3 separate regions of the Homo sapiens genome follow, and regions 2 and 3 are each linked to region 1. The links come from fine-mapping of genetic effects on gene expression. A gene starts in region 1. Each other region holds a variant in brackets. All regions are shown on one strand. Distances are between the middles of the regions. Region 1 holds the start of TMF1 (TATA element modulatory factor 1). Region 2 overlaps TMF1 (TATA element modulatory factor 1). Region 3 overlaps UBA3 (ubiquitin like modifier activating enzyme 3).

The links. PIP is the estimated chance that this variant, and not a neighbour inherited with it, causes the effect. A credible set is the group of variants that fine-mapping cannot tell apart.
Region 2: its variant is the best candidate, but not a certain one, in a credible set for the expression of TMF1 in pancreas (GTEx, PIP 0.50).
Region 3: its variant is the best candidate, but not a certain one, in a credible set for the expression of TMF1 in breast (GTEx, PIP 0.65).

What each region holds. Positions count from the first base shown.
Region 1 is chr3:69,050,938-69,053,701 of GRCh38, reverse strand. It overlaps TMF1 (TATA element modulatory factor 1), which reads left to right and starts at 1,369. Exons shown (of 17, transcript NM_007114.3): 1 at 1,369-1,757. The coding sequence starts at 1,616. RefSeq lists an enhancer at 1,308-1,777.
Region 2 is chr3:69,027,178-69,029,941 of GRCh38, reverse strand. TMF1 (TATA element modulatory factor 1) reads left to right here. Exons shown (of 17, transcript NM_007114.3): 11 at 1-127; 12 at 1,647-1,716; 13 at 1,950-2,042. Among named protein-coding and RNA genes, the nearest start is that of EOGT, 15 kb to the right of the region's middle. The variant AC/C (reference allele first, on the strand shown) is at 1,218.
Region 3 is chr3:69,076,966-69,079,729 of GRCh38, reverse strand. It overlaps UBA3 (ubiquitin like modifier activating enzyme 3), which reads left to right. Exons shown (of 18, transcript NM_003968.4): 3 at 1,812-1,932. Among named protein-coding and RNA genes, the nearest start is that of UBA3, 2.0 kb to the left of the region's middle. The variant A/G (reference allele first, on the strand shown) is at 1,748.

The DNA.
Region 1 (2,764 bases):
TGGTACTACTTGTGTACATGACTAAATTGTTAGTTTTAACATGCAAGTTTTTACTGTAGTTAGATAAAATTATTGGAAGATGATTATAACTTCTTAAGGGGTTCAATCTGATTTTTTAAAAGAAAAATAATTCTTTTTTGCAGAGTTCCTTGCAGTGGGGTAAAATATTCAAATATGGGAGGCAGGCATATAAGGTAAATAATCACAGCAGGGAGGGTGTAATAGGATGAGTGATAGGGGTCTGTGGCAAACTGGAGTGAGTGAAAATTATTTGGTGACCACTCTGGCTGACTATTCCCATGCTTGGTATTCATATTTTTCAAAAGCAGCTGGAAATCTAGATTTTTGAATGAAATCTGGCTTTTAGTTAGGATTTTGTCTTTAACTTGGGCCCAAACCAAATATAGCTGCAGACTGGATTAGGAAGGCCACCAATTTAAGGTATTTTCCCATGTCCAAATGTTCGAAGAGAATGCACACAGAAAAGGTTATGTTTTAAGTAATATGCACAGTGCACATTGTTAGGATAACAGCTTTAGTGCTTCCTAGGTGTCTTAGTCCATTTGGACTGCTGTAACAAATTGCCATAAACTGGGTGGCTTATAAGCAGTAGCAATTTGTTTCTTAACAGTTCTAGAGGCTGAGAAGTCCAAGATAAGGAGCCGGCAGATTTGGTGTCTGGTGAGGGCTGCTATTCTGGCTTAGAGTTGGTGCCTTCTTGCCGTGAGCTCCCTTGGGCCTCTCTTATAAGGGCACTAACCCCATTTATGAGGGCTCCATCATCATCTAATCATCTCCTAAAGGCTCCCCTTAATACTGTCCCATTGGAGATTAGGTTTCAACATAGGAATTTGTGCAGGGGACACCGACAGACCACAGTATTAGGGGTATTTTGACTGCAGCAATGAGTTTACTACTATTTTGAGAGAGAGGTTGTGCTTTATGCACCATGTGTTCCACGAGTTGGACACAGTGTTCATACGTGATCCTGTCTTTTAGGCAAGCCCAAACAAGTGTTTCTCCTTACAATACCAAGTTAATACAGAGCTTATTAAATATTTGAGACAAAGGGCTAAGAGAAGTGTGAGGCCCAATTTCCCTTTGCAATTATTGCTGGCAAGGTGCAAGCTTTTAGCACGTGAACTATTTTCCTGGAAAGCACACACACGAAAACTTGAATATTCCTTCCGGGGAAATCGACCTCTATCGGTAGCCATAGCTTCCCCTTCGCTAAGAACTGCTGTAAGCACGAAATCGACATCAATAGAAACCCTTCCGCGTTCCTCGGTAACTAACGGCAACCCTGCGCTCCCGGATGTGACGTCAACGTTCTTCTGTTCTTCCGTCTGTCGACCGAACTCTGGGCTCGTAGATTTGGTTGCTGTGTACGTGGAAGAAGCAAGCGCATGCGCACATGGGCCCCCTTCGTCTCAGCTGTGCGGGAACGGCCGAGGGTAACATCCCGGGCTCGCGGGAGGCTGTCGGGGTAATGGCCACACGCTGACAGAACCAGCCGAGTGGAAAAGGGGAGCGAAGCCGTTCCTCTGCACCCTTCCCCAGGCCTGAGGCCTTCCCGCTTGGTGCTGCCGCCGCCACTGCCGGCTGAGGAGGGGCGATGAGTTGGTTCAACGCCTCCCAGCTCTCCAGCTTCGCTAAGCAGGCCCTGTCCCAGGCCCAGAAGTCTATTGACAGGGTTCTGGACATCCAGGAAGAGGAGCCGAGCATCTGGGCCGAGACCATTCCGTATGGAGAGCCGGGTAAGAGAGAGAGGAGCGGGGTTCCTGGCTCCCGGAGGCTGCTGTTCTCTTGATGCAGGCAGGTTAAGTGGTGTAGAGAGGGGTCCTTCCTTGCTGAGAGAGTTTTCAGGAAGTAATTTCTCCCCGGCCCGTTCCCTAATGCTGCTTCAGCCTCCAAGTCGGTCTTTGCTGTTTTCCTGAGGGAAAACCCAGATCCAGGTTCCCCCTTGTCTTTCTTTGGTCCTGGGTGCGAGGCTTGTGGACTTGGATGACAGGGGACTTGGTTGGTTGGTCTTGCCCTCAAGCTCTCCCTCGACGCAGCTTCCAAGCACAACCTTCCCGAACCTGAACCTCGAATTGCTTCGCGTCTCGGGCACTGTTGGGATCCAAGGTCTGAAGTACGTAAATCATCAGGGAAGGGAAGAACAATCGCTAACAGTCAGTGAACATTTCGCGCTTGGTAGCGCGTAATGTGGTTTTATGTTGTTGTTGAGACGGAGTCTCACTCCGTCGCCCAGGCTGGAGTGCAGTGGCGCGATCTCGGCTCACTGCAACCTCCGCCTCCCAGGTTCTAGCGATTCTCCTTCCCCAGCCTCCCTAGTAGCTGGGATTACAGGCGCCCACCACCACGCCCGGCAACTTTTTGTATTTTTAGTAGGGACGGGGTTTCACTATGTTGGCCAGGCTGGTGGAACTCCTGACTTAAGGCGATCCACCCACCTCGGCCTCCTAAAGTGCTGGGATTACAGGCACGAGCCTGTAATGTGCTTTTTTATGGCCTTCTCATCTTCAGAACAACTCCCAGAGAGAGCTTGGTTTATATCCGTGTTTTACATAAGAGGAAAATGAGGCCCAGAATGGCCAAGTAACTTGCTCTAGGTCACACGGCGGAGGAGGATTAGAATGTGCCGGAGGTATTAGCCGGAAAATGTGTGACCCAAGATTTCTGGATGGTATCACATTTTATTTCTGAATAGCCAAGTCTCTCTTTGCAGTTTCATTGAGCTTAATCTTTCAGGGATCTTCAT
Region 2 (2,764 bases), 24 kb after region 1:
CTAACAAAATTCAGATGTCTTCCATGGAGTCACAGAATTCTCTTTTAAGACAGGAAAACAGTAGATTTCAAGCCCAGCTAGAATCAGAGAAAAATAGGCTGTGTAAACTGGAGGATGAGAACAATAGGTGAGCATGGTTTCTGAGTGATATTTTTGGTAGTTCCGTGACATCCTAAAGCACTTTTTAAAAGTATGTTGTTGGGCCGGGCGCCGTGGCTCACGCCTGTAATCCCAGCACATTGGGAGGCCAAGGCGGGCGGATCACTTGAGGTCAGGAGGTGGAGACCAGCCTGGCCAACATGGCGAAACCTACTCTCTCCTAAAAATAAAATTAGCCAGGTGTGATGGTGTGCGCCTGTAATCCCAGCAGCTCGGAGGCTGAGGCATGAGAATCGCTTACACCCGGGAGGCGGAAGTTGCAGTGAGCCAAGATCCCACCACTGCACTCCAGCCTGGGTGACAGAGTGAGACTCGGTCTCAAAAAAAAAAAAATAAATTAAATAAGTAAATAAACAAAGTATGTCGTTGGCTTTTAGCTTCAGGGTACCAAGAACTAAATGTAATCACTTTTAGCATTTAAAGTTAGGGTTATTAGTAATAGGATATTATGGCCGGGTGCTGTGGCTCATGCCTGTTATCCAGCACTTTGGGAGGCTGAGGCAGGTGGATCACCTGAGGTTAGGAGTTCAAGACCAGCCTGGCCAACATGGTGAAACCCTGTGTCTACTAAAAATACAAAAATTAGCCAGGCATGGTGGCAGACGCCTGTAATTCCAGCTACTCGGGAGGCTGAGGCAGGAGAATTGCTTGAACCTGGGAGGCAGAGGTTGCAGTGAGATTGCACCATTGCACCCCAGCCCGGGCAGCAGAGCGAGACTCCGTCTCCAAAAAAAAAAAAATAAATAAAGTAATAGGATATTATAACAAGAAGATAGTACTGGGATTCATTGTCATGTAGATTGTTGAGATTGTGTGGCATGTTTTGTATTTATTTTTTTTTCCAGGGAAAGGATTTGTACCTTTAATCAGATTTTTTAAAGGGGCCTATAACACCACAAAATAGTTTTGAGACTACTCTTTGGAGTTACTTTTATATTACAAGGATTTTAGTAGTATAATTTAAGTCTTTTCTAAATAAATTTCTGGGTTCTTGGAAACCATGGGGTGTAAAATCCATCTATCTGAGATTATATTAAGGCAATGGTTAGTATTTTTTA[AC/C]CCTCTGTTCTTCCTTGGAAATTTTACTTTTTAAAAAAATGTCAAGTAAAAATGATTTCTAAAGTAAAATATCTGAACTTTTAGAAACATTTTCATAGAACTCCCTAATAAGCTTTGTGGAATCTGAGCATATTATAGGATGATGGTACTCAAAATTATTTTTATAAAGTCTCTTTTTAAATGAAATCTTAACCCAGAGCACCAATAAATAAAATGCACAGAAGTGGAGCTTTTTCACTTTTGGTTTGGTTTCTGAGTGAAACTCAGATGGGATCTGGAACACACTGTTGGAAAATCACTGATGTCAAGCTGGTAATAAAAATGATTTCTCAATATGTAGCTGGAGTTAATAAAGTACTGAGTTTTTAATAGTCTATACTAGCATCTTTTTCATTTTCTGTTTTTTTAAATTCTGCCTTGTTTAATAGGTACCAGGTTGAATTGGAAAACCTAAAAGATGAATATGTAAGAACACTTGAAGAGACGAGGAAAGAAAAGGTATTTCTCTTCGTGACCACTCAGCTCTTAGGGCATACATTAGAGAATGGTTGGGGATGGCAGCAAATTAATGAGATAACAAGATGAAATGGGTGATGCCACTGCTTTTGGAACTTGGTCTTTAGTAGGAAAACAAATATGAGTTTATACTTTATGCTTCTAACTTTGAGATTGACTTATCATGGCATGAATTACTATCACAGAAATTGTCTAACTTTATTTCTCTCTATTAGACATTGTTGAATAGTCAGTTAGAAATGGAAAGAATGAAAGTTGAACAAGAAAGGAAGAAAGCCATTTTTACTCAAGAAACAATAAAAGAAAAGGTATTGAATTTTGTTTTTGTTTGTTTGTGGTGTAACCATTTAGTAGATGCTGTGATTAATCATTGCTTTTTAATTTTAGCTATGCTTTATAACAAGCTTGTCCAACCTGTGGCCCTGGTTGGCATGTGGCCCAGGATGATTTTGAATGAAGCCCAACACAAATTTGCAAACTTTCTTAAATCATCATGAGATTTTTTTCATGATTTTTTTTTTTTTTTTTAGTTCATCAGCTATTGTTAGTATATTTTATGTGTGGCCCAAGACAATTCTTGTTCTTCAAATGAGGCCCAGGGAACCAAAAGATTGGACATCCCTGCTTTATAAGTATCATTTTTTTAATGTCTAAAATCAACATAGTGATGAATTCTAGTATTATAATCAGTGTCCTGCTCAGAGTGGACCCAAAGTAATTTTGAGTTTATCCAAAGAGATCTATGATTTCTAGGACTTGAAATATAAAACCTCTTGCCCTTTTTAAAAATGAATTTAATTGTCTGTCACTGAAACCAGTGCACATCATTTGGTCTATAGGCACTTAAGGAGTAAGTCTGGCTTGTTTTCTTTCTGGTTAATGAGGGTAATTTTTCTGAAATGAGTTTTCTGAGGCTGAGCATGGGGACTCACATCTGTAATCCCAGCACTTTGAGAGGCTGAGGTAGGTGGATCACTTGAGGCTAAGAGTTCAAGACCAGCCTGGCCAACATGGCAAAACCCCATCTCTA
Region 3 (2,764 bases), 26 kb before region 1:
CCTTTTGCAAACACTGAGACAGTAGTACTAATTGCAAACTTTTAATGATAACTCTACATGTCAGGTATTGTACTAAGCACTCCAGTCATTTTGGCAGAATAATTGGCTCTTAAAAGATCTGGAAAGAGGTTGTTGACTTCAAACAGCCTATTTATCCCTTTTACTACACACCCTATTTCTTATCAGATGCTTAATTCTATGCTGGTGAGACAGATTTAATCGAAGTGTTTTCTAACCTGGCCAGCGCCACATAATTTACTCCCCTCCCTGCCTGGGCAGGGAAAAAATACTCTTGCATTGGTTATGGTGAGTTTGTAAATTTCCGTGCCGATTCCCAGTAGCAGTGCTTTGATCTTTATGTGTGTCCCTCAGTTGAATTTCAGCTGCAAGAGGACCGGGATGACAAACTTAATTTCACATTCTTTCCTGCCTTTTATTTCCCTCCCACTTTTACATGAAATCACAATTAAACATTGCTTACCATATCCCACGTACTGTACTGAGTCTTCTGTGTGATTATCTATATCCTCATGGCTGAAAGAAGTAGCTATGAACGGCCTGCAGATGAGGTTTATGTCTATTAAGTAATCTGCTCAAGGTCACAGTGCTGTTAATTGTGGAACCCAACACAACTCTGACATCAAAACGTATGGTTTTTATTGCTAGGCAATACTTCTTGGTCCCTTTTGTAAAAATTGGATATTACTAATATATTTGACGGTAGAAACTGTGGAGTTATAGGAAATTAGAAAATTAAAAATAATCACAACCAAACGTGAATCTTAACTAAGTATAAAATAGATGAATTTTGTAGAGGAGTCCCACCTTATTCTGTTGTATGTTCTAAAAGGTTTGTAGATGTCTATCTGTGGCGTAATTGTAATCTGAAACTTTGTGTTTAGTGGCAAGAAAAGCCGTCCCACAGCATTAAGAGATTCTTTAAAAAATTAAGACCTCTGCCAGGTTCGGTGGCTCATGCCTGTAATCCCAGCACTTTGGGAGGCCGAGGTGGACGGATTACTTGAGCTCAGGAGTTTCAGACCAGCCTGTGCAACATGGCGAAACCCGTCTCTACTAAAAATACAAAAATTGGCTGGGTATGGTGGCATGTACCTGTAGGCACAGCTACTTGGGAGGCTGAGGCAGGAGAATCACTTGAGCCCAGGAGGGCAAGGCTGCAGTGAGCTGCAGTCACACCACTGCACTCCAGCCTGGGCAACACAGTGAGACTCTGTCACAAAAAAAGAAAAAGAAAAAGAAAAAATAACCTTATTTCTGAGAAAAGTGTGTGAAAATTCCTCTCATCAAAGTGATTTTTAGATTACACCTTTGGAAAGGACACATAAATATTAAATTTGCATCAGACATATAAGCATCAGAATTCTGAAAGTGTGACTTTTTTTCTCTGTTGTATCTCATATTTCCTAATGCAAGTGTGATGAAACAACAGATTGAGGAAGCTTGCAGTGTTTTTTTTGTAAATACCAAATGTAGAGAAGTCAATTTCTCACATAATAGACCAATATCCTAAGTTGAACCTTGGATTGCTTTAGGAAACCAAAAACATGTAGACTGATTTATTTCATCCATTGGGTGAAATAAAAATAGAAACGTGCAGTTCTTAACTTTAAATGAATTGTATAATAGGCAAGAAAAAATTTCAAAGCATAAACATAATCACATTGAATATTTTCCTTTTTATTTGAGCAGGTCTGGTGTGGTTACCTTTTCATTTGGGGATACCATA[A/G]TAGTTGTAGGTGTGGTTTTTTTCATACTGATCTTTGCAGCTGAATTTACTGTGTTCTGTGCAGAATGGCTGTTGATGGTGGGTGTGGGGACACTGGAGACTGGGAAGGTCGCTGGAACCATGTAAAGAAGTTCCTCGAGCGATCTGGACCCTTCACACACCCTGATTTCGAACCGAGCACTGAAGTGAGAAACGTTTATTTTTAAATAACTGCTCTAATAGTTTTATGTTTCAAAACTAATAGAATGCTTCTTTTTTAATTTGCTCTTACAATGAAAATACTAATAAAATTGTTTTGTGAAACTAAATTTTTCTTAAAATATGAGATTGAATATTCACAACTGATTTTGTTTGAATATTTGAGTCTTAACATTTCTCATGTAATATAAGTTGAAAATTTTTGTGAGAAAAATCTAACTTCATGACCTCATGTAAAAATTTAAAATGCTTTCTGAAACATACTCCCCTTTTGTAGTGCTACTGTGAGAAATTAATTTTGATAGGAGTATAGGTGTGCTTACTTAAATTTTGAAATTTAGTTGGAATGAACATCTTAGCTTTGAGTATAATTAATTGCATGTTAAGAATTATGTAAGTACTAAATAATAGAGGCGTAGAATTTTGGACTGATAGTGTCTATCTTAAGGCAAGTGTTCACTTATATGTCACTTTTTTTTATTACAGGGTAGGGAAAAGTATAGCACATCTTTATGTGCTTTTGTATTTATAAAAAGATAGTATTTTGAAATAGAAATATTGTGTTACTCCCATAAATTAACGTGCAAACTCTTGGTTTGGCCCAGTGTCTCATGTGAATAACTTTCTCCTTTAATGCTGGGCAGAACTGAAAGCATTAAAAATAAAAAAAAAAAAAAGAAAAAGAATTGAAAGTATTAATTCTGTCTTTCTTTAGATAACACACCATATTTTCTTGTGCTTCTAAATTTTTTTTTTTGCCTGATAATTTAAGATTGTTACTTCTGTTAAATGATTGTATTTCTGCTGATAAGGAATTTT